Linked DNA regions of Homo sapiens: region 1 is linked to region 2. The links come from fine-mapping of genetic effects on gene expression. A gene starts in region 2. The other region holds a variant in brackets. All regions are shown on one strand. Distances are from middle to middle.

Region 1 (9,585 bases), 80 kb after region 2:
GGTAGAAAATGAACAGAAATTTAGTTAAATTCAAAATGTATTAATAATTGTTATCAATGTTGATTTTCTGATTTGATCACTGTATTGTGGTTTTAAAAGATGCACTTGGGGAATCTAGGTGAAGATTATAGGGCTATTATTTGTATTATTTTTGCAACTCTCTTTGAAGTCTAAAATTATTTCCAAAGAAAAAGTTTTTTAAAAATTAAGTATTAGGCCAGGCATGGTGGCTAACACCTGTAATCTCAGCACTTTGGGTGTCTGAGGCAGGTGGATTGCTTGAGTCCAGGAAGACCAGCCTGAGCAACATGGTAAGACCCTATCTCTATTTAATATAAGAAATATAATCTTTCAAAATATCTATAAGGCCAGGTGCAGTGGCTCATGCCTGTAATCCCAGCACTTCGGGAGGCCAAGGCAGGTGGATTGCCTGAGGCCAGGAGTTCAAGACAAGGCTGGTCAACGTGGTAAAACCCTGTCTCTACTAAAAATACAAAAAATTAGCCAGGCATGGTGGTGGCGCCTGTGATCCCAGCTACTCAGGAGGCTGAGACAGGAGAACTGCTTGAACCTGGGAAGGGGAGATTGCAGTGAGCTGAGATCGCGCTACTGTACTCCAGCCTGGGCGACAGAGCGAGACACTGTCTCAAAAAAAAAAAAAAAAAAAAAAAAATTAGCCAGGCATGGTGGTGGGTGCCTGTAATCCCAGCTACTCGGGAGGCTAAGGCAGAAGAATCACTTGAACCCAGGAGGTGGAGGTTGCAGTGAGCTGAGATTGTGCCAAGCCGAGATTGCACCACTGCACTCCAGCCTGGGAGACAGAGCAAAACTCCGTCTCAAAATAAATAAATAAATAAATAAATAGCTGGGTGTAGTGGCGCATGCCTGTAATCCCAGCTGCTCGGGAGGCTGAGGCAGGAGAATCACTTGAAGCTGGGTGTGTGTATGTGTGTGTGTGCAATGAGCCGAGATAGTACCACTGCACTCTAGCCTGGGCAACACAGTGAGACCTTGTCTCAAAAAAAAGAAAAAAAAAAAAAAAAAAGAAAGAAAGAAAAGAAAATAGAGCATTACAAAGAATAGAACTTGAGATAGTTCTTGAAAGGACAGGTGGAAGTGTCACTCACATCTCACACTGCTTTTATCACATTAGCTCTTCTGCTCCCACACAAACATGGGCACATAACATCTTTAACCATCTATGTATCCTCTACCATGCTCAGCATACTGCTTTGTCTTGTCTGTGGTGGAAACCAAATCATTCATTCATGTATACATTCTCTAATATCTACTGAGCACATACTATGCACCAGGTGTTTTAGGAGCTGGAGATACAACGGTAAACAAAAATCTCTTCCCTCAAGAAGCTTATATTTTAGTGAAAGATGACACAATAGACAAAGTATAATATTTAGAATAGTAGGCAGTGACAGGTATCAAGAACAAAAGGCAAGGAAGAGTTTTTGAAATTGTAGATAAGAATGGTCAGATAATACCTACTGATAAGGTAACTTCTGAGTAAAGGAAGTGAGGGAGCTAGTCATGCAGAAATTAGTGGAGGAAGCCTTCTAGGCAGAGGGGACAGCAACCGCAAAGACCCTCATGTCTTTGTGAGGGCTCACATGTGCTTGACATGTTCCAAAACAGCATGAAGGCTGGGTAGCTGAAGAAAAACGAAAGAAGGACTAGTCAGAAATGTAGTCAGAGAGGTACTAGGATAAGGGTGGCAGGCAGAGGGTACATCAGATTTGTTCTTACAGGTGTTTTTTTATTTTTTGACACAGGGTCTCATTTTGTCGTCAAGGCTGGGGTGCAGTGGCACAGTCATGGCTCACTGCAGCCTCAAGCTCCTGAGCTCAAGCAATCCTCCTGCCTCAGCCTCTCAAGTAACTGGGACTACAGGCACGCGCCAGCATGCTTGGCTAATTTTTAATTTTTTTATAGAGACAGGGTCTTGTTATGATGCCCAAGCTGGTCTCAAACTCCTGGACTCAAACGATCCTCCCACTTGAGCTCCCAAAATGGTGAAATTACAGACATATCCTTTTTTTTTTCTTTTGAGACAGTCTCGCTCTGTCGCCCAGGCTAGAGTGCAGTGGCACGATCTTGGCTCACTGCAAGCTCCACCTCCCGGGTTCACACCATTCTCCTGCCTCAACCTCCCGAGTAGCTGGGACTACAGGTGCGTGTGCCACCATGCCCGGCTAACTCTTTTGTATTTTTTTTAGTGGAGACCATGTTAGCCAGGATGGTCTCAATCTCCTGACCTCGTGATCCGCCTGCCTCAGCCTCCCAAAGTGCTGGTATTACAGGCATGGGCCACCGCGCCCAGCTCATTACAGACATATCTAAATAAGGACTCAGGTTTAATACTCAGACTGAAATGGAAAGCCACTGGATGGTTTTAAGCAGAGAAGTGACACGGTATGACTTAGGTTTCAAAAGAATCACTTGGGTTGCTATGTTGAGAACACATTTAAGAGCCGCAGTAACAAAACAAGGAGAATAGAATCCAAGCTAGAGATGCACAGGCACTGACTAGGGCAGTGGAGATGCAGATCCTAAGTGGTCTAATTCTGGATAGTATTTTGAATATAAAGCAGTAAAATTTACTGATGGACCACATATGAAAAAGACACAGAAGAGTCAACAATGTCTCTTAGTTATCCAAGAGGAGACATCGAGTGGAGACCTTGAGTGGGCCACTAAACATATTAGTCTATGGTAGAGGGAGAGATCCCCGTTAGAGTCATCAGCATTGTTTGGATTTTAGAAAGGTAATATGGTACATATACTGTATCATCTCTCTCTCCCAGCTAGGGCTGAGTAGCTCCCCATAATCAAGCAGTCACATTTCTGCATCATGCAGGATAGCCCAGGTCAGGCTGTACCCCAAAACTAGTTGTGGAACTAGACTTACCAAAAAACAAAAACTCTTGCATTTCAGAACTGCAAATAAAGGATGTGGACCTGCATATCCTCCAATAGCCCATATGTCAGCAAGCCTAGCCCTGGAGGACACCAAGAAGACTCATGAAGGGTCCACTGTCATGCTGAGAAATATGGGTAACATACAAGCATACAAGACAAAAAGTGGGTAGGGAAAACAAAAGCAAAAGGGGCAAATAAGAAATACATCAGGTAGAAATTGCCACCCATGACCGGGCACGGTGACTCACGTCTTAATCCTAGCACTTTTGAGAGGCTGAGGCAGAAGGACCTCTTGAGCCCAGGAGTTCGAGACCAGCCTGGGCAACACAGCAGGACTTCACCTCTATAAAAATATAAAAAAAATTAGCCAGGTGCGTGGTGGCACACACCTGTAGTCCCAGCTACATGGGAGGCTAAGGTAGGAGGGTCGCTTAAGTCCAGAAGATCAACACTGCAGTGAGCTGTGATCATGCCACTGCACTCCAGCCTGGTGACAGAGCGAGACTTCGTCTAAAAAAAAAAAAAAAAAGACATGAGAAAAAAAGACATTATGCGGCCGGGTGCAGTGGATCATGCCTGTAATCCCAGTACTTTGGGAGGCTGAGGCGGGCGGATCACGAGGTCAGGAGTCTGCGACCAACCTGATCAACATGGTGAAACCCTGCCTCTACCAAAAGTACAAAACTTAGCCAGGCGTGTGGTGGCGCCCCAGCTTCTTCTTCGTGGAGGCTGAGGCAGGACAATCGCTAGAACCCGGGAGGCGGAAGTTGCAGTGAGCTGAGATTGCACCACTGCACTCCAGCCTGGGAGACAGAGCAGGACTCCATCTCAAAAAAAAAAAAAAGTCTAGTGCCTAACACAGTATCTGTGACACAGTAAGTGCTCAATAAATATCAGCTTTTATTTTTCAAGGGGCGAGGAAGGTGTATTTTGAAAAAGCATATACTATTTATTTTTTTAAAGGCCTACAGAAAGTAAAGCTTAACAAACTCTTGGCTGGTGGATTGCCCAGAAAAGAGAGAAAGCCATGAAAAGCACTATGCTAAACTACTGAATGCCAGGGATATAACCTCTTAATTCCAGTTAAAATTCCCAGGTACTAACATCTGCCATGCACAGCTCTCCAGTGTCTTGTCTGCTCCCACTGAAGATGTAAAAAGAATTATACTTCACCAGGAATCTTGTCAAATTACTACACACCTCCTTCCTTAAAAAAGAAAAAAAGTCTTTCTCTGTATGTAAATTATTAAAACCCTCTTAATTACGAAGTGCCAATCTTTCTAAGCTATTTATCTCTGAACAAAATTATAGTATATAAAATAATTATCTGGAGATTATGAAGCATTTATGAAAATGTTCCTAATACAGCAAAACCAGGTTCTTACTTGAATCCTTATAGACTCTTCTGTGTTCCCCAGTATACAGCACTGCAAATCATGGGAACTATATATGTAGCCCAAATTTTCCTCAATGGTCAATCGTTCTCCACTATCTCTCTCAGTTTATGGCATCAGAAAAAACCACCTGGATTTTTTGTCTCCCCACCAATTCTATTACAGCCATCATTTGCTAAACTAAAATGCTATTGCTTTTGCAACTTCCTTAGCAGAGAAGGTAGGACCCACCTACCCTTTTCACATAAATATAGCACAGGGTACCACTCAGGCCCTACTAACCAAAGCACAAATCTAGAATTTCACTTCAGATAATTAACCAGAGGCTCATTTAGACATTACTGCATAAATAAACATTGGTTCCATGTTTATTTTTCTCATGAAAAATGTGAAAAACATTGAAATAATTTCTCTCAATAGGAAAAGATAATGTATCAAGTGAAAGCAAAAACCTCATCTAATGTGGTTCTGCTATCTAAATCTGAAATGCCCTAAGGCAACTCTCCAATACAGGCTGGAGGGCAACGCTACAGAAGTCACATACAGAAGGCTACCCTGATCCACAATTCCACCCTCCTCTGAAATAAAAAGGGCAACAACACTGTACTATGTAGAGTATAAATAGAAAGTGGTCTAGATGGTCTAAC[A/G]TAAGTACATAAAATAAAAAAGAAAAGACTTTTCACCTATAGTTACCTAAATAGCAAATTCTTTAGGAAACCAAGTTTTTTTGGTTGTTTTTTGAGGCGGAGTTTTGCTCCTGTCGCCCAGGCTACAGTGCAATGGCACCATCTCGGCTCACTGCACCCTCGCCTCCCGGGTTCAAGTGATTCTCCTGCCTCAGCCTCCCCAGTAGCTGGGATTACAGGCGCTTGCCACCACGCCCAGCTTTTTTTTGTATTTTTAGTAGAAACAGGGTTTCGCCATGTAAGCCTGGCTGGTCTCGAACTCCTGACCTCAAGTGATCCACCTGCCTCGGCCTCCCAAAGTGCTAGGATTACAGGCATGAGCCACCGCGCCCGTCCAGGAAACTAAGTTTATATAGCAGAACCATGTGCACAATGAAAGCATTCAAAAATACAACTGTCAGAGATATCGGAGTATTTTATTCAAAGTCTGAGTTCTTAAAAAAAAAAAACAAACCCTACTTTATAAACAGACCAGTTTTGAGATTAAAATGTAAATCCAAACTTTCCTGTTATAAATCTCAGCCTTGTAAAGAGGAGGAGCTTCCACTGCCTTTTCAAGGCTAACTTCGTTTAAAGTCCTAACGCACCGAAACAGACGCCAAGTCTACTACCCACCACCCATTGGCTCAAAGGAAGCCCCGCCCCGTACAGCCACGGTAACTGAACATCAAGGGAACCCCAGGGAAGGTTTTCCCTCCGCCACATTTCTAGTCTCTGATGACTCCCTGCCCCTCCCCTACCATCACCACCGCGGATCTAGGGTTCCAGCACCAGCCACGCACGCTCCTACAAGAGGACCTTGGGCACTTCGCCCCAATAGTTACAACCAAGAGGGGAGTGGGGGTGACCATGCTCCCACTCTCCTGGCTGCACGGTGCCAGACACGCTGCATGGAGCAAAGCGGAGAAAGCAGCTCCGGCACAGGGCCCTTGTGCCCCCAGGCAGAAGGCATGACCCAGCCACAAGAGTAAGTCCTGACACCTCCACAGCTCCCAGTCGGCGGGTGCCCCTCCCTCCCCACGGAGACATAGGGCGGGGCAGATCTAGGCGCCGAGACTCCCAGCCAGACCCGACAGCGGGCTTTCCCTAGCACCTCCTCATTGCCAAGGAGGCGGAAACCCGGGGCCTGGGCGGGGTGCAGGGGGGGACGGCCAAGGGGAGTGGCATCACGGATCAGTACGGCCCCTCCGGCCAACCGGATCCCAAGAAGGCGGAGGAACTCAGACTTCACGCCCCCTCCCTGCCGCGCCCTGAATCTACACGCGGGAGACCCCCCCCTACCCCTCCCCGACCCCAGCAGGCCAGAGCGCGGCCGCCAGCCCGAGGCCCCGCCCACCCCAGGAGGAGGGGAGGGGGTGGTCGGCCGCAAACTGCACTCAGCGCGAAGCCGGCCCCGCCCCTTTCTCCACAATCGCACGCGCGCGCCGGCCCCGCCTCTGAGCGGCGGCGCGAGAGCCCGCCCCCCTCCGCGCGCACCGGGACTACGCTCTCCTCCCCCTCCCGCGCGGAGAGCTACCCCGCTCCGCCCCCCACCCCCCTCACACAACCACACACCTCCCGCCCGTCTGCTCTACGGGAAGCCGAGGAGGTCAGCCCCCCCCCCCCAAAATACACACCCTCGAGTCCGGCGTTACCCGCCACCAGGCTCCCGCCCGGCCCCCGGCCCAGCGTGCTCTCACCGCAAAGCTGCTTCGGCCGCTCGTCACTGCGTGTCCCTCTCAGCGTGAGCCGCGAGCTCAGCAGGGAGGCCCCGAGAACGGCGCGGGGCACAGGCCCGCCGAAGCGGACTGCCAGCTACCTCTCCACTAACGAAGCGGTCACAGGCTCCGGTGCCCAGACTGGGAAGGAGGGAGGGAGGGAGGGAGGGAAACTCCGAGGGGGGAAGGGGAGGGGGGAAGATGGAGAAACCGTCTCCGCCGCCTCTACCGCCGCGGCCGCTTCTCTGTTACCCGGGAAATCCCGCCCACTCCCCCGACCCCGCCCCGCAGAGGGAAGACTCAGCTTCGTTCCAATACAGGACGCAATACCCGCCCGTCAAAGACTCAGCCAACCACCGAGGCCTGTCTTATGATTTTCCCGCCCCTTCCCCCTCGACTGGTAGGGGAGGGGGAGCCGCTCTCCTTCTCCACGCCCCTATTGGCGGGGAGCTTCCCTAACTCAACCCCGCCTATTGGAGACGGACTGCTGAAGCCCACCCCCGAGCCCCAACACTATTGGAGGAAGCAGGGAAGCTCTTCCTGTCTCATTGGAGGACACCACATAACCCGCCCTGCAGCGTCTCAGCCACAGGCCTAACAAGTTGGCTCCCGCCTCCGCTGGTCATCGCATTGGAAGGCTACCCCTGGCTCTCCCACCGCCCCAGTAAGGTAAGTAACCGATGTGGGGTAAAATGTCTGTAAGTGAAACAGGCTCCGCCTACCGCACTGCCGGGCCAGGCCCCGCCCCAAGAGTCGGATTGGATATCTTGGCGCTGGTAGGACCCTCCATTGGCCAGGGCGCCCGTCTAGGAAGGAGCTAATTCCACCCTGCGCGAGGAGGCTGAACCTTAGCAGTCCTTTTGTGGAATGTTTACACTAGAGACTGAAGCTCGGAGTTCCAGGGCCCGAGATAGGAGGGGGAGCGGAGCTCATCAGCGGAGACTCCACATCCTAGGATTTGAAGGAAAGGCAGCCCACCATGGAGGACTCCCTCACAAAAAAAATGAGAGAATGAGAACTCATCCTTCCGTCCAGTTATCTTTACAGTTTACATTCTACACACTGCGTCCTTGTAAACACAAATATCCGGAGCAGCTGGCAACTCCTTTCAGCCAAGTAGAGTACAGAACTAAGGTCTGGAGACCTAGGCGGAGAAGTAAACTCCCTAGAGCTGAATATGCAGTCCTAAGAGGGCGGAGATAACCAAAAGAGAGGCGGGCTCTAACAGCCACCGCCCTGGCAAGCCTCCGGAAGGCGGAGCGTGAGGCACAAGGTACTCACGATCTCCCGGGTGGATCTGGAGGCATCCTCAGAACTGAGAAAGGAGAGGAAAACACCAAAACAGGCCACGGCATAAATTAACATTGGGGACATGCCACACTCAGAGAATGGATAAAATTTCCGTAGTTGGGGACATAAGATAACGGCTGTTCACCTTCTCCTTGGCCGGGAGTGTTAATAGCAGTTCCTGTGCCCTCTCTGTGTAGGTAACAGTGCCTCGAACACACAGTGAGACAAAGTGCTTTCAATTCCTAGTTTGCTTTTATTTATTCACCAAATAGGGCGTGGGCCTGACGCTGATCTTACTTTGGGGGGCGCTCTCTCAGCGCCAGGAGAGGTGACGGGATTACGTTGTTACCGCTCTCCCGAATAAGTAGAACCCTCCTCCCAGAGAGCTAAGACCCCAAGGGACACGCCCAGGGAACCCACGCCTAGGTCCAACACTGTCCTCCCTCTGCAATCCAGCGGAAACGGCCAGGAACGAGCTCTGGCAGCAGGTGGGCCTGACTCCAGCGATGGCTTCGAGCCGCGAAACCACAGCAGCGAATTGTGAACTCCAAGGGTAGCCGACAGGTGGGAGCAGCCTCGCCAGTAGCCAAGCCCTGCCCCAGGACAGAGCTCTAAAAATAAGTCAGACCAACGAAGCGACCCCAGGGCCAAACTGCTCGGAGGTTAGGAGGAAGCGGCACTCCAGCAGAACTGACCCACGGCTACTTTTAACTTTGCGCCGCCTTCCACCACTAGACTGAGTACCACAGGGCATTCCCACCATGGTATCAAGAACTACTCAGAACCCAAGCCAGCATTAGGCCGCCCACGACTTCCCGTGAACACAGGGTACCACCTGCGCTAAGATCTCGCCTAAGGGCCCCAGGCCAGGGCACTAGGTTGTCAGAGTCTCAGATACAGCCAACTAAGGACAGCCGCTGCCATGCCTAGGAAAGAACAGACACTTGCAGCGTCTGCAGAGTTCTCGAGCTTAAGCTCAGGGAAGTCAAGGGGCACGGAAATAGCCAAGCGACAGGGTTAGAACTTTAGTACTTGGCCCCGGCCCCGAAAGGCAGATCTCAAACCCAGCAGAACCTCCGGAGTTTCGCTCCCGAAATCCACTCCGCACTGTAATCCCCTGGCTTCACCCCGAAGGCTACTAGGTCTCGAGCCTCGGTGGAACCTTTGTGTGGCTTCTCGGCTCTCCCCGCCCCCCTCGCCAAGGGCGCCGAGCCTAGGACTTCCGGGCGGGAGGGCAGTTCGAAGGAGCTAGGCGGGCCTCACACATGTGCGGAGCGCGCTCAAGAGCGGAGGGAGGCGGGGAGCAAGGGTGGACTTCCCCTCCCAGCTCTCTCCGCCGGAGGAGGCCGGGCTACCCGCCCCACCAATCAGAGGCGGGGGCGGGACCTTGCGCCTCACGTCATCCGCAAGAACCGTCCCTCCTCCCTCCGCGAAAAAAAAATCCTAGCAACTTAAACTCCAGCCCGGCCTCCCGATAGGCGGAGCTCGGGAGAATGTCATCCAATCCACATCCAAGAAGGAGAAAAAAAGGGAGTCTCGCCTAGCCAGTGGAAGACAAGAGAAGGCGGGGCCTCCGGGAGAGCCGGA
Region 2 (9,757 bases):
CCTTTTTCCCTGCTGGTCCCCCTGCTCAGCACCGTCTCCCTCCTCCCCTTCACATAGGAAAATTCTCTCAACCCTCAAGCAGGTGGAAACCCTCGTCCTACTCTGGATTCCCAGAGTCCCATTTATCTGACCCAAAGAACAACCTTCTTGGAGCAGGGCTCTAGAGGGTAGCAGGGGGTACAGGGGGTGTCAAGTACCTTGGCTATGCCCAGCAGCAGCTCCAGATCCACCAGGAGCATGTGGACATCCCGGTGGAACACAGCTAGCTCAGCCCGGCTCAGCTGGAACATCTTCTCAGGGTCAGGGGCTGCAATCATGCTTCCCTTCCCGGCCCCCAGGAGCCCATTGCAGGCTACTTCCACATAGAGAGTGAGGCTACAAAGATGGGGAGACAGCCTCAGGCTAAGGGACTGGCACAGTACTCCGGGGACTTGGGGAAGGGGCACCCAGGAGGCATCCAGCTGAGCCCAACCTGTCTGCTTCCAGGATCCACTACCCAGAGGATCCCACAGTGTGACAAGAGTGCATGTGGGAGGGTTGTGGTACAAACACCAGATGGATCCCATGTCTTGCTGTCAGAGAGAATAAGTAGCAAAGTTTGGAACCATGTAAAGTACGCTGCTGTTTAGTCTTATATTTCCAAAGTTGTCTTTGCAAAGCACTGCCTTGGTCTTGGAACCCTCTTTGCATATTAAAATCATGTTCGGATCTCCCAGGCTCAAACTTTTAGACCCAAGATCTAAAACCAACACGGCCAACATGGGCGGGCCATTCATTGGAGAACAGGCTGGGCTGTGGTGATGCCATACTTAGGCTTCAGAGAGCAAACACGACTTCCTTAGGGAGGCCTTCCTGACTCCACTTCGCTGCTAAGTCTAGAGCAAATTCCTCAGTGGAGTACCCAGGATTTCCTTCCAGAGCCCTCAGTTTTGTAATTATATGAGTGAATCTGTCTCCCTTTGTTGGCAAGGGCTATTTTATTCACCACCATACTCCCAGTGTCTGAAAGCATCTGAAACAGTGTCAATCTATATAAAATACATTCATAATGTCTAAGAAGTGTTTTTAATGGTGTCATAAAATGTCCATGTTATAACATGGAATGTAAGAAGTCAGGATACAATCTTAACTAGTAAAAACTATACCGGGATGAGCCGGGCACGGTGGCTCATTCCTGTAATCCCAGCACTTTGGGAGACTCAGGCAAGTGGATAGCCTGAGGTCAGCAGTTTGAGACCAGCCTGGCCAACAGAGTCAAACCCCGTCTCTACTAAAAATACAAAAAATTAGCTGGGCATGGTGGTGGGCACCTGTAATCTCAGCTAGTAGGGAGGCTGAGGCAGGAGAATTGCTTGAACCTGGGAGGCGGCGGTCGCAGTGAGCCGAGATCGTGCCATTGCACTCCAGCCTGGGTAACAAAAGCGAAACTCCGTCTCAAAAAAATCCAAAAAAACCCCCCCGAAAAAACAAAAAAAACTATGCCGGAAAGATACACCAAGAACATGAATACTGGGCCAGGTGCGGTGGCTCACGCCTGTAATTCCAGCATTTTGGGAAGCTGAGAGGGGCGGATAACCTGAGGTCAAGAATTTGAGAGTAGCCTGGCCAACACGGTGAAACCCTTTCTCTACCAAAAATAAAAAAAAAATAGCTGGACGTGGTGGCACACACCTGTAATCCCTGCTACTCGGGAAGCTGAGGCATGAGAATCGCTTGAACCTGGGAGGCAGAAGGTACAGTGAGCTGCGATCGTGCTACTGTACTCCAGCATCGGCGACAGAGGGAGACTTCGTCTCAAAAAAAAGAACATGAATGCTGAGATGTTAATAATGTTCATCTCTATTCTAGGGAGTGGAATAACGGTAGTTATTTACTTCTTTGTGCTTTCCTGTATTTACCACAGGCAAACATTGCTATTATTTTTGAGACAAGGTCTCACTCTGTTGCCCAGGCTGCAGTGCAGCGGTGTGATCATGGCTCACTGCAGCCTCATCCTCCTGGGCTCAGGTGATCCTCCCACTCAGCCTCCCAGGGTAGTGTGGGTCACTGCACCCAGCCCATTATTTTTATGGTTAGGAAAAAATCATGCTTTTAAAAGCAAACAATGAGATGTGAGGATGATTGTGCTAGAGCAGAGGCGGGCTTATGAGATCACTCTGGGCCTCAGCTCCTCCTTGCTCACTGGTACTCCCTCCCTGACAGCACTGGTCAACCAGGGCACAGGGACTCACCTTCGGGGGTCTCTTTCCCCCAGCCTGTCAGTCAGGACATAGCTGGTCTTCTCACCCTCTTTGGTTAAACCCTAGTAGGGAGGGGAGTGAGAGAGACAAGGCTTGAGGCTTTTGGACAGTTCAGGTAAAGTGTAAGCCATGGGGAGTCAGGCCCCTCCATCTGGTTCCCAGCTCTGGGTCCTCTCTCCCAAGCAGGGCCAAGATTGGCAAATCAGGGACCCTTGGCAGTAGATGCCCCAACTCCCATGGCAGCCAGCACCATGACCGTCAAATAGCCCCTGTTTACCAGTGGCAAACCCATGGTCTTATGGGAAGGGCCCTGGGAAGGGGTTAGGCAGCCTGAGTGTGGATTCTGGTGGCCTCTGCACCCCTAAATAAATACCGGGAAAGAAACTCCGTGAAGTCAGGGGCAGGTTTGCCTCATTCCCTGCTACACCCTAGTGCTTAAGGGTATGGCCCAGAATGGACACCAGGAGATATTTGCTGAGCCAGTGAAGGGAGGAAGGGATGGTCTCTGCCTTCTTGTAGCCAGGAAGAACAGTCTTAACCCCAGATTGAGAGTCAGTCCAATTTGAAATAGAAGCTGTGTGAACCTGAGTGAGTCAACTACACATCTGTTTCTTAATTTGTAAATGGGTATAAAGACCTACTAGATAGGAGTATAAGGACTAAACCTGATAAGGGTGGAGCATGAATAAGACACTTAACAGTGGTTATAGCTGGGGAATGGGATGGGTGATAAGGAGAGATCCATTACTTTATCTAGAACTGTTTGAAATGTTTTCCTATAAGTTTGTATTATACACAATAAAAACTAAGGACCAATTGCACAGATGCCCAAGTGGCAACTTCCCTAGTCCTGAAATCCTGATACCACCCTGTGGGCAGAGCAACTCAGCTGTGGCTTCTCCAGAGTCCACAGAAGAAGGGCTGTAGTCATTTCAGGGCTGAAATGTGGCCATACCTGGCCCTAGGACAGGGTTCCTCACCTGGACAGGTTCTCCATCACGCCACACCAGACCTTCTCCATCACTTTCCCAGCAAAGGTGAACTTCCTGGCCCACCCATGCCTCTGGGATGGTCAGCTCCACCCGGAACCAGCAGGTCCACCATCTGCAAGAGAGCTGTTGTGATAGGCCTAGAGGTAGAAGTCCTATCCTGATATCCTTCCTTGGATAAAGTGTCGGCAGGGGCTTGAAACTCTCCAAGCATCTGCAGTGTCACAAGGTACTCAGCTTTGAGTCACAAGAAAGGAGCAACAAGGTGAGAAGCAAGATGAGGGAAACAGGCAGAGGCGTCAAAGGTTCGTGATCCCTAGGGTGCCCTTCCTAAGGGATGTCCAGAGGCGGCCACGTGGGAATGAAAACCATCCCCTGAAGACCCAGGGACCAGAGAGCTGTTCCCAGCAGAGGGTGCTGCTCCCAGCAGAGGGTGCTGCTCGATCCCACGTAGTTGTCTACGGCAGAGGGCAGACAACGAAGGTGTGGCTGGGAGCTGGGTTGGGACTTCCCCTAGGCCTGTGGCCCCGCCCACCCGCTGGGCGTTACCTACGTGGGTCCGAAGCTGTCGCCGACCTGCGCGGGGCGGAAGTCCCGCTGGACTGCCTCCTGGTAGGGAAGTCTCTCCGGCGTCAGGAAGCTGGAGAGCACAGCCACAGGGCAGCTGGCCCCAAAAAGCCTGCGTGGGACGGGCCGGTGGGCACATGCTGGAGGCCGCCCCGTTTCCGCCTGGGGGCCAGCTGGCCGGTGGGGCCGCACTTTCCCTGGATCCTCCGCCAAGAGGGCTGCCTGGCCGCTCCGCGGCACAGTCCATTCCCTACCCCCTCCTCCCCGGCCCCTGCCCTGCCCGCGGCGGGCACTTTGTCCCGCGGCCCGGGTGGCTGCAGCTTAGGTTTCTCCCCGGAAGGAAAGCTTGAGGCGCACGGTTGCGGTCGGCCGGCTGCGGGGGACCAGGGGCCACACCTGCCGCGGAGGTTACAGTCGGTAAAGTAGAGCGGCGACACGAACTTCTCCACCCGCTCCAGCGTGGTGCGCCAGTGCTTCAAGGCCGGCGCAGCCGCCATCGCCGGGCTCTCGCTCCTCTTTCCGGAAGGCCCCTGGCGCTACCGTTCCGCTCCACGGCAGGAAACCAAAGGTTCCGGCGTCCAGAGGGCGCCTCCCAGTCCCGGGCAGCTTTTCTTGGAACACCGGCGGCTCTCGGAAGCCCAGCTGCTGTCTGAACTTTGAGCCGAGTTGGAAGCTAGAAACTGTTTTTGAGGCTCTCCTATGTTGTCCGAAATAGTGGGCCGCAGGGAAAATCTCAAAATAAAATGGGAAATTTGACGATTAGAACTCTCGAAAGTCTCAAGACAGAGACTTAGGCCATTCGGCAAGACAGGCGGGAGCCTCAGCTGCTGCAGACCCAGCCTCAGAAGCAGCAACCGGGAGACCTCTGGCTCTAGCTGTCGGTGAACACGGAAAGTGGTGTTTGCTTAACGTGGAGCCAGACTACCCGGAATAGGTGTTTTCATACCGGACGGAGATCAGGGTGTTAGTGAGCAGGGTGGTAGAGCTTTACGCCCAAGTTACTACGACTTACTCGATTACACGCTTTACTGAATGTATATTGCTAACTCTTGCACATCACCAGAAACTCTGGAGTTTGAGGTGGCAGAACAGTCATGGCATTGACGATCCCAATGGAAAAATGTATTTCACCATACAGGACTGTAGAGTCCCGGGAAGCCATAATACCAGAAACAGACCTCCAGTTTCATTCTCATCCCTAGTACTCCACTGACAGCTTTATTTTTTTTCTCCTGGGGTTGCCAAGAGTCTTTGTCTATAAAATCATTAGGAACAAAAAAAAATACACAAGATTAGCCCTGATATTTTAATGGAAATACTGACCAAGTTTACAACATTTCAAATGCAGATCACACGGAAAGGTGACTAAGTACAGAATAACAAATGTGATTTAAAACAAAGATAACCTGCTGCTGCATATAATACAGGTTGGGTTTAGAGCTTGGAGCTCAGATGTCAGACAGCAGGAGGAATAAAAATGCTACTTGTGAAAACCCAGGCTGTAGGTAAAACTTACTCTTTTGTTGGTTGCACTGGTGGGTTGGGACTTTCTCCTGAACTGGCCTTGAAATCCTATCCTGACCTGCAGGCAAGTGCTCTGGACAAAACACTGCAGGGGCAGCAACAGCTGGGGCTGACCCTGATCACACCCCACCAATTTCCCCTATGGTTCCAGGTCAACATGACCTTTCTTGAGGGAACACGGGGATAGGTGAATTATTTGAGAAAACCTCAAGATCTTTCCCCTAAATCAGTACACATGACCACCGCCAAGTCAGACACTGCCCCAGCTTTGCCCTAAAATCTCATCCCACAAAGCTCTTTTTGGCACCCTACACTTTGGCTCACAGTCTCTTCTCCCCAGTACAAAAAAAGCCTAAAATCAGGCCAGGGTGGCTCACACCTGTAATCTCAGCACTTTGCGAGGCCGAGGTGGGAGGACAGCTTGAGGCCAGGAGTTTGAGACCAACCTGGGCAGCATAGCAAGACCCTGTCTCTACAAAAAGTTAAAAAATTAGCTGGGCGTGGTGGCATGCAGCTACTCAGGAGGCCGAGGTGGGAGGACTGCTTGAGCCTGGGAGGTCAAGCCTGCAGTGAGCTATGATCGTGGCACTGCACTCCAGTGTGGGTCATAAAGCGAGACACTGTCTTTAAACAATAAAAGCCTAAAATCAGAGAGGTCTACCATGTGTTTTGAAAATCCAGGAGCCAAAAAATTTTGTTTTTCTTTTTGGTGGTGGTGGTGATTTTTAACTAAAAAGCAAACATAAAACACACAGAACATTGCTGGTTACAACTAAGACTTGCGTAATGGTTGCTGAAGAAAAATCCACCAGAGTACTGGGAGGGGCTCAGTTGGTCTTTGTTCAGAAAGTCCAGGTTAACCACATAGAAAAATCCTAATCATTCATGTTTAAATGTCTGCTAGTTTAAATTTATGTAATTAAAAAAATAGGTATCCCATTTCAAATTCTCTCCCTCCCAACTCCATTTATAAGGTATACCACATGCCTTATGCACACTTTTTTTTCAAACACTGGTTTGGTATTTAAGTTGCTCACCCCCATCCATCACCAATGTGAATAAGAAAAAATATATAGAAATACAAACTACATAGCTTGACAACTTACCCAAATATAAAATATTTTCAGATTATTTGAACAAGGGAAAAAAACACGTACTAAAAGACTTAAGTATTCTAAGATTTTGGAATATTTTGATTTGGGACAAGTAACAAGTATTTTAAGCAAAATCCTGTTTCTACCCTGGATAAGGAACTGAAGTCAAAATCCCTGCTTCACAGTATTTTCTGGTGAGGACAAGGGACGTGGGTTGAGAGTTTATTCCTTAAGTAAGAACCAAGCTTTATTTATTTACAAAAAAAAAAAAAAAAAAGTTGGGGGCAAAGGGGAAGACAAGTTTTACACAAAAGTACTACAATGGTAACTCCCTTTGGTAAAAAGTGTAATAAATGTCTTGTACATCTGTTCATAGGTACTAAATCTGAAGCCACAGTACTATGGTACACAAGAAGCTAGAGCAGTTATGCTAGCACATCAAAGCATATTTCTTTTAATAAAAAATTGACAGTATGTACATTATGTACAAAAAAACAAGTTAAAATTGTGTGTGTGTGTGCGTGTGTGTGTCAGAGAGTAAAGCTGGTGGATGGCACTAAGGTAGACTAGTAAAGAGGCAGATACAAAACAGTTCCACGGGAGCTAAAAAGGACAACTGATTTGAACTCGTTGAGGTTGAGAACCAGAGGAGAGAAAAGGGTAGGCAGCAAGGGAATCGTCAGGAATAAAATCCACAAGATGATCAATCCCAAAGCCAAACTGCAGGTCCCAGATAAAACCTAATGGGTGATCTTAGATGTGCTCGAGTGACCAGAAAAAAAAAATCAAATCCAGCTTTTTTTTCCTTTTGTGGGGAGGGGAGAGGAGCAGTGACCATGATAGTTCCAATCCATCTGAGTATTAAGTCCTTCTCCAGTCTGTTTTGTAAATGCATCTCCATCCAGTCAAAGTGTGAACAGCATCCGGTTCCCTCATTGAAAGTTAGGCCACAGGAGACTCCAGTCTTAGCTCTGCTGGTGTGTGCAAGCAAACTGCATGTCTTTGCTTGCATGGACTTCCTTCCCCTCCAGGGCAGGCTATACCCAAAACCCTTTGGGAAAAGTTCCAGCTTCAGCTTTGTAAGGTATTCATGTTCCTAACAGGTAGCCCACTTGGTGCCAGGCTGCACCAGCCACACACAGGTCAGGTGGCCATGTCCCAGAGAGGCCCAGTGAGGCTTGAAAGGCATCTTCCTTGTTTCTTCAGTGTGTGAGTGCATAGGCCCACACACACATCCCCACACACACCCCAAGTTATCTGCTCTGGCTTTGCAGTTAAGGGGCTTTGAATACTGTGCCGTATTTGACACGATACTTGTTAATGCTCACAAAATGCAGGGTCTCTGTATCACAGGTGGTGGTACAGGGCACCAGGCCCTCCAGCCCCTCACCCATGAGCCACTTGCTGGTCTCTGCTGCCATTTCACGGGGCACATGCTCCTTGGTCCATTTATCTACCCAGGCCTGGAATCTCTGATGTAGACGCTTGCTTACACGCTCATGGGACTGCAAAACAGAAAAAAAAAATTTTATTAAATGAAGCAGAACCAAAAAAGAGCCCTTCAAATACAAAGCCTAATTTTCTTCTAAAGGAGCAAAGGAAAGATGTGGGCTCAAGTCTTAGATACCACTGTTTTTTTCTTAAAAGAAAAAAAAAAGGATTCTCTGTTTAAAGAGAAGTTAAAGAGGTAAGAACATAGAACATGTGAGGGCATGAAAATCCATAAAGCCTCCAAAGAAATGCGAACACAGGCTCTGGGCTGAAAAAGCTCGCTGTTCTCAATTTTAGCATGCGTTAGTATAACCGAGGGAATGTGTTAAAAAATACACATTTCTGACCAGGTGCAGTGACTCATGCCTGTAATCCTAGTACTCTGGGAGGCTGAGGCAGGCAGTTCGCTTGAGCTCAGGAGTTTGAGACCAGCCTGGGCAACATGGCAAAACCCCATCTCTACAAAAATACAAATAATAACTGGGCGTGGTGGCACACACCTGTAGTCCCAGCTACTTGGTAGGCTGAAGTGGGAGGATCGCTTGAGCCAGGAGGTGGAGGCTGCAGTGAGCCAAGATCGCACCACCGCACCCCAGCCTAGATGACAGAGCCAAACCCTGTCTCCAAAAAAAAAAAAAAAAAAAACCCAAAACCCCCAAAACCCACATTTCCTTGGTTTACCAATGTGCATTTTAAACCAGCAATCCAGCTGATTCTAATGTATCCTGGGTAGGACCCAGTGAGCCATTGATCACTTCTATCAGCATGGAGATCCACCTCTAAGCCAGACAGTGCAAAGCAAAGGGCTTAAAACCACTCTCCCTCCACTGTGTTACCCCACCCTGGGAAGCAGAGTCCAGGCTTGGCAGATGTTCTGCAGGGGGTTCTGTTCCCACCAACACATTCAATAAAAATTTATTGGTGTCCACATGCAAGGATACTAGAAGAGATACAAAGACAAAACTGGTGTTGCCCAGTGTCCCAAATAATGTGAATCAGAGACAGGCAGACACACAACACATAGCAAAAAAAATGAGCCAGGTGTGGTGGTGCACGCCCGTAATCCCAGCTACTCGAGAGGCTGAGACAAGAGAATCTCTTGAACCCGGGAAGTGGAGGATGCAGTGAGCTGAAATCATGCCACTGCGCTTCCCTCAGTGCCATGAGAGAAGTAGAGCAGACTCTTGAACAACACAGCTTTGAACAGCGCAGGGCCACTGATAGGCAAGTTTTCTTCCACCTCTGCCAACCCTGAGACAGCAAAAACAACCCCTCCCTTCCTCCTCCCTCTTCAGCCTACTCAACAAGATGAGAATAAGGACCCTTTATGATGAGCCACAACCACTTAATGAAGAGTAAATGTATCTTCTCTTGCTTATGACTTAACATTTTCTTTTCTCTAACTTACTTTATTGTAAGAATATACAGTATAGGCTGGGCACAGTGGCTCACGCCTGTAATCCCAGCACTTTAGGAGGCTGAAATGGGTGGGTTGTTTGAACCCTTGAGTTTGAGACCAGCCCTGGGCAACGTAAGGAGACCCCGTGTCTATTTTCATTAAAAAAAAAAAAAAGAAAGAAAAAAAGAATGCAGTATATATAATACATACAACATACAAAATATGTTGTTTATCAGTAAGCCTTCCAGTCAGTAGTAGACTATCAGTAGTTCCATTTTGGGGGAGTCAAAAATTATACACAGATTTGACTGTGCAGGGGCCAGTGCCCCAAACCCCTTGTCGTTAAAGGGTTAATTATACATTAAACTGTCTGCTCAACATCTCCCATTTGAAAGTTTTGTAGTCCTTTCAAACTTAAAACAGCACTTCATCTGTCTCCCAAACCTCATAACC

The links. PIP is the estimated chance that this variant, and not a neighbour inherited with it, causes the effect.
Region 1: its variant is fine-mapped to the expression of MAN2C1 in whole blood (INTERVAL, PIP above 0.99).

Annotation. Positions count from the first base shown.
Region 1 is chr15:75,444,733-75,454,317 of GRCh38, forward strand. SIN3A (SIN3 transcription regulator family member A) reads right to left here and starts at 6,958. Exons shown (of 21, transcript NM_001145358.2): 1 at 6,691-6,958. RefSeq lists enhancers at 5,376-6,295, 5,723-5,852, 7,563-7,612, 7,842-8,373, 8,374-8,906 and 3 more and silencers at 6,103-6,602, 6,823-6,922. The variant A/G (reference allele first, on the strand shown) is at 4,973.
Region 2 is chr15:75,364,291-75,374,047 of GRCh38, forward strand. MAN2C1 (mannosidase alpha class 2C member 1) reads right to left here and starts at 4,317. Exons shown (of 26, transcript NM_006715.4): 1 at 4,193-4,317; 2 at 3,783-3,908; 3 at 3,221-3,344; 4 at 2,232-2,302; 5 at 198-375. The coding sequence starts at 4,293. SIN3A (SIN3 transcription regulator family member A) reads right to left here. Exons shown (of 21, transcript NM_001145358.2): 21 at 5,089-7,919. The coding sequence ends at 7,689. RefSeq lists a silencer at 3,984-4,063 and enhancers at 4,090-4,622, 4,194-4,513, 4,198-4,492.